2 separate regions of the Homo sapiens genome follow, and region 1 is linked to region 2. Evidence: fine-mapped expression QTL. A gene starts in region 2. The other region holds a variant in brackets. All regions are shown on one strand. Distances are between the middles of the regions. Region 1 overlaps LINC01237 (long intergenic non-protein coding RNA 1237). Region 2 holds the start of LINC01237 (long intergenic non-protein coding RNA 1237).

Evidence for each region.
Region 1: its variant is fine-mapped to the expression of LINC01237 in whole blood (TOPMed, PIP above 0.99).

Annotation. Positions count from the first base shown.
Region 1 is chr2:241,951,588-241,954,481 of GRCh38, forward strand. All of the region lies in intron 2 of LINC01237 (long intergenic non-protein coding RNA 1237), which reads left to right. Among named protein-coding and RNA genes, the nearest start is that of LINC01238, 18 kb to the right of the region's middle. The variant A/T (reference allele first, on the strand shown) is at 1,121.
Region 2 is chr2:241,879,918-241,882,811 of GRCh38, forward strand. It overlaps LINC01237 (long intergenic non-protein coding RNA 1237), which reads left to right and starts at 1,446. Exons shown (of 4, transcript NR_110220.1): 1 at 1,446-1,561; 2 at 2,643-2,718. LOC105373978 (a long non-coding RNA gene) reads right to left here and starts at 1,410. Exons shown (of 3, transcript XR_924077.3): 1 at 1,198-1,410; 2 at 952-1,100. RefSeq lists an enhancer at 876-1,466.

The DNA.
Region 1 (2,894 bases), 72 kb after region 2:
TAAGTAAAAACAAAAACCTCCATACCGACTGCATTCCTTTCAAGTGTTTAACTGTTTAACTTCAAAGTCAGAAGTGCCCTAAACTCAAAAACGGCACCAACAACTACTTGAGTGGGACTCTTTTGTTTGCAGTCATCAGGAACTCAATTCAAGCTGATAAAAGCCAGAAAAAGAATGTCATTGAAGGGGCAGGGGTTGTTGATGTATGCAATTACTAACTGCAAAGGGGCATTCAGGAATGGGTGGATCTAGGGGCTTCAGTGGTCTCTATCTCTTACCCATGCCTTCCTCTGAAATGAGTCCCCCAGATTTCTCCTCCTGCCAGCTCCTGGCAGCCACGGTCATTTCTTTGCAGCCTCAAGTCTACTCTGAGATTTCCTCTTCCCAGCAGTTCAAACAGGAGCCTCTGATTGAGACGCTGGCACTGGCTGGGGCCTTGTGCCCACCTCTGAGCCCATCACTGCAGTGGGGCATTGGGTGCTCTCATCGGCCAGGCCTGGGTCACGGGACCATCTTGGAGGGCAGGGTGGGGCAGCCCACGGAGCCCAGGCTGCGTGTCTCCGGAAGAGAATCGAGGTGGGACTCGGGAGGGAAGGGTGCTGGGCAGGGAAGGTAGGGAGTGCTCAGGAGCGCTTCAGCGGAAGGACCTGGAAATGGCTCTGGCTGTCTGTGGTCAGTTTCCTGCTCCTTGCACATCCAGAGAAGGAAAGGACTTTTTTTCTTGAGATGGAGTTTCACTCTTGTTGTCCAGGTGGGGGTGCAATGGTGAGATCTCGGCTCACTGCAACCTCCGCCCCCTGGGTGTGGGTGATTCTCCTGTCTCAGTCTCTGTGGTAGCTGGGATTACAGGCAGATGCCACGATGCCCAGCTAATTTTTGTATTTTTAGTAGAGACAGGGTTTCACCATGTTGGTCAGGTTGGCTTCCAACTCCTGACCTCAGGTGATCTGCCTGCCTCAGCCTCCCAAAGTGCTGGGATTACAGGCGTGAGCCACTGCGTCCAGCCAGGAAAGGACTTTTTTAAGCTTTGGATTACAAGAATGGGTGATGATCTCTCTCGGCTTGCCTGGCATCATTTTGAGACAGGGTTGTCTGTTAAACCTTTTTAAATACAAATAAG[A/T]TGCATATTAACGTTTAAGGAAATCTAATGTTTTCCACGATATGACTTTGAGAACCTTAAGCTCTTGCGTGTATGTTTAGCGGGGACGGGACCGTGCCCTTTGTGGAAGCCCAAGCCTCACTGTGATGACATCTGGAGGTGGGCCTTTGGGAGGTGATTTGGGTTAGATGGGGTCATGAGGGTGGGGCCACATGAGGGGATTCGTGCCATCCTAGGAAGAGGAGGAGACCAGAGCTCGCTCTCCACCGCCCTGGCCAGGAAGCCGCCCTAGCAAGAACCCGTCCCGGCCGGCCCGACCTCAGACCCACAGCCGCCAGATTGTGAGCAATGGAGGTCTGTGTGCGCCCCCTCTGTGGTGGTGGTTACAGCAGCCCCTCAGACGGAGAGTGAAGAGTGTTTAGCTGGTTCTCCGGGAAGCAGCGCCTGAGATACAGGCTCAGGGCTGCCGGCTCAGTCGGGAGTGAGGCTCAGGGGAAAGGGGTGGGGGAAGAGCAAGGTGGGTGCGGGGGGCAGGCGAGGGAGAAGGGGGGAGAGGGAGGGGAAGGGGAGGGGGGAGGAGAGGGAGAAGGGAGGAACCGAGGGGACGGGGGGCTCAGCGCACGGGGGCATCTTCCAAATGGCCACATAAATGAGTGCAATTCCGGGTCCACCCGAAGGTGCGGGGGGAGGTTCCTCTCCCGGTTCCACCTCACACGGGATGCTGTTTCCCCGCACGCGGCTGCTCCTGGAGGGTGAGAAGGGGTTGCAGTGGTTCCGCTCAGGGCCAGGTGGGGCAGGAGGCCGGACCCCTGTCTTGGTGGACGCTCGGCCGCAGCCCTCTGTTGTGGCCTCAGCAGCGACTCCAACCGAATCTGTGGCCAGAGGCTGTGGGGAGTGGAAGCTGGAGGACCCAGGCTCGAGGGCGTCTGACCCAGGGAGCCCGCAGCAGGCAGGTCACCCCGACTTGTGGCCCCGTGATGCTGCAGGGACCCCAGCTGTGGGAAAAGCCACGCTACTGTCCCCCAGAGCAGAGGACCAAGTGCTCAGCTGCACAGCCCGGCCGGGGGTGCTCGGCCGCCGTGTCTGCAAAGGCCTGGAGCAGATGTACCCAGGCCCCAGGGAGGAGCCGGAGGTGCCCAGGCTGTGGGGAGGAGCCGGAGGTGCCCAGGCCGGGGGGAGGAGCCAGATGTGCCCAGGCCGGGGCTGTCCTGAGGTCTCCGCTGGCCCGTCGCTGTCCTCTCTCTCCTGTGCCGGGGTGGCTGCCCTGCAGGCTCCAGTGAATATAATTTTCTCTTGGCTTAGCTGCATCCTGCAGTTTTGATGTGTCTTTTCTTCATCACCATTTATTCAACACATATCCAAATTCTGCTATGATTTCTTTTGGCCACTGGATTATTTAGAAGCATATTCTTTAATTTCCAGGAAGTTTAGCATTTTTTAGTATTTTTTTTCACTTCTAAGTTTACTGAGGTCAGAAAATATGCTCTGAATTTTAAATTTAGATCCTTTGAAATTATTTGAGGCTTTCCCTATGTCCCAACATATGGAAATTTTGGTGAATGTTATGTGTACACTTAAGAAGAAGAGGAAGCAAGCCATTTTGGATACAAGGTCTGAGGCAGAACAATTGGGCCGCTCTAGTTGATTATGTTGCTCAGGTCTTCCTTATCCTGACTAATTTTATGTTATCCCAGTTACCGAGAAAGGCACGTGACAATTCCCCTATGCTTGTGGATTTTTCTCTTTGTATTTGGCTCTCATTACTCTTAGTAGGGTGCTCCAAGGTGGGATTTAC
Region 2 (2,894 bases):
GCAATCTGAGTGCCTGTATGCTACTCCTGTGGGCAGCTAGCACCCTGGTACCCCTGGGAACAGAGCGTGAATGCCTTTAAAGCTAGTTGGAGCAGAGAACCAATTCCAGACACCCAGAGACATTTAGATAACTCATTACTAGGGTCCTGGCCCTGGGATCACTCCCAGGACTAGTTCTGTGTCTGTCCAGGTGTGATCCAGGAGTGCAGTGACGGATGTGGATGTGGGATTGGCACAGGACTTCCGCCAGCAGAAGAAAGGAAGGGAGGGGAGGGGAAGAGAGGGCAGGGGAGCAGAGCGGAGGAGAGAGGGGAGCAGTCTTTCCAGCTGGGGCTGGCCTAGGCTGCTGGGTCATTTGGGAAGAAAAGGTGATTTGGACTCAGGGAGACTGAGGGTGCCCTCGGGCCAGCATCTGAGGAGAGTGACAGGGGTTTCCTGGCTCCACAGCCCCAGGTGGCCTTGGTGGGTGCAGGCAGAAAATGACCTTTTCAAGTCCAGTTCCAACCCAGAGGGGGTTCCTAGACCCAGCGCCAATCAAGGGGCACCAGGGAGGCAGCAGAGGTTCCCGCAAATCCAGAGCAGAGTGGCTGCCAGACACCCCACATCCTCTTCGCAGCAGACTGAAGGCCACCCCACACTTGGAGGAGCCCGGGTGAAGCATCTGGGGAAGACCCTCAGCCCTGGGAGAGTCCCTCCAGGGGTGAGCAGGTGGGCTGCCCCTCAGGGTGCGGCTCATTTCGATGTAAGTTTTATAAAATAAGAAAAGGCGCCCTATAGCACCCCTTTGGGAGCCTCGTGTCACCTCCAAACATATACCTCGCTTCCAGGTCAGAAGTAGTGAAATGACCATTGCCAATGCAAATGGAACTGCCTTAGGACACATGGGGGAGGTTAGGGCCTGCTGTGGGGCCTTATGGTGGGCCCCGAGGGGCCCCGCACACCTGTGCTCACCTCCCAGGTCATCGCTGGGCCGCCTCTGTCCCCTGGGAGGCTCTGCCTCGGGGAGCCCTCTTCCCAAGCTCCCAGCAATGACTTCCAGGCCTCCCTCAGCATCAAGAGGAGCCACGTCTTCTTCTTGTGACCCAGCAGTATAATTCACCCTAAATAATGGCAGAATGGGTTGTGTGTAGTCTTTAAAAGTCAAAACAATTTTGCACACAACAGGAGTCATTCAGCAGTGGCTAACACTCTCCTGACCTGTGTCGGCGCTGGGCTCCAAGGTGTACCTCCGCACGCATGGGGTTAACTACGCCCCCATGACCATTCCCTGCAGGAGGGGCGGGACAGAGGACTGCGTTATGTTTCTCCTAAAAGAAAATCATGAAAGTCACACACTCCAGGTGCCACACTTATTATGGAGGGAGGGAAAGCAGATGAGCGGGCGGGAAAACTAGCGGGCTTGCCACGCCCAGGCAGCGCTGCTCGGGTTTCCGCTTCCTCCGCCCCTTCCTTTTTCTCTGTGCATCCTCAGTGACGCGGGGCACAGCTCTGCCCGGGGGCCTACCAGAGCCCACCTGGACCCCACACTGGGTCAGCCCTGGTGCGGAGGAGGCCGCTGTAGGTGGGCACGGGGCAGCACGCGTTAAGGGGCTGGACGGGGGGTGGCCATGCGTGTGAGGGCGCTGAGCAGGGGCGTGCCCATACGTGTGAGGGGGCTGGGTAGGGGCGTGGCCCAGCGTGTGTGTGTGTGTGTGTGTGTGTGTGTGTGTGTGTGTGTGTGTGTGGCTGGACAGGGGTGTGGCCACGCGCGAGGGGGCCGTGCAGGGGGCGTGGCCACGAGCGAGGAGACTAAGGGGCGTGGTCACGCGTGTGAGGGGCTGGGCTAGAGGAGTGGCCCTGTGTGCGGGGGCTGGACGGGGGCGTGGTCATGTGCGAGGAGGCTGAACAGGGGGCGTGACCACGTGTGGAAGGGGGCTGATCGGAGGTGTGGCCACATGTAAGGGGGCTGGGCAGGGGGTGTGGCCACGTGTGAGGGGGGGCTGGGCCGGGGCGTGGCCACACGTGTGCTGGCTCTGCTGTGGGCTTCCTTCCCTTCCTGTGCAGGTGGTGGTGCCCTCTGCGCCTTCACTGGGGCCCAGCCAAGTAACTGAATCCAGCCAGGAGCAAGGGCAGACGCTGGCACAGGTCCTGCCACTGTCCCCAACCTGGGTTTCAACACAGCTGAGGCCTGGCATAGTCTTTCTGGGCGCCTCTGGCTGGCTCGGTCTGAAAGGTGGGACAGATGCAACTGGGGCCTCCCCGGGTGCAGCGTGGGTGGCTCCTGGCTGGGGAAGTGAGAAGCCCTCCGTGCGGTGTCTCTGAAGCAGCCCCAGGCCAAGGCTGTGGCGTGCTTGGTGGTGCTGTAGGCCCAAGATGTTTATGGGTCGAGGGTCCCCGGGGCCGGGATTCTGATCCCTGGTGAGAGGTGGCTGGGAGGAAGTCCAGACGTGTCCTGAGTGGCCATTCCTCACACTGAGGTGACACCGCCTCTCCAAACACGTGACGTGGCTGGAAGCAGATGCTGCTGTCCGGTTCTCCCTCCTCTCCGTCCCTGGCTGGGACATGTGGATCTCACCCGCAGCCACTTTCTTCTGGCCTCTGTCCCCCTGCCTGGGACACGTGGACCTCACCCCCAGTCTCCTTCTCTCCTCTGCCCCCCGCAGGCGCGGCCAGGTCACAGTCGGCACCAGAAGTTTGGCAGATCTCAGTGAGGCGTTAGTTTGCATTTCCTTGTGACGGGTGAGTTGAACACCCTTTCATGAGTGTATTGATCACTGTGTACCTTCTTTGTTGAAATGTCGTCAGTATTTAAAGTCACAAATCTTCCTCTAAGACTATGCTACAATTTTTGTGTAATATTTTGATGGATATTTGAAATAAGTGCTAATTTTCTTTGGATTTCTTCTTTGACCCAT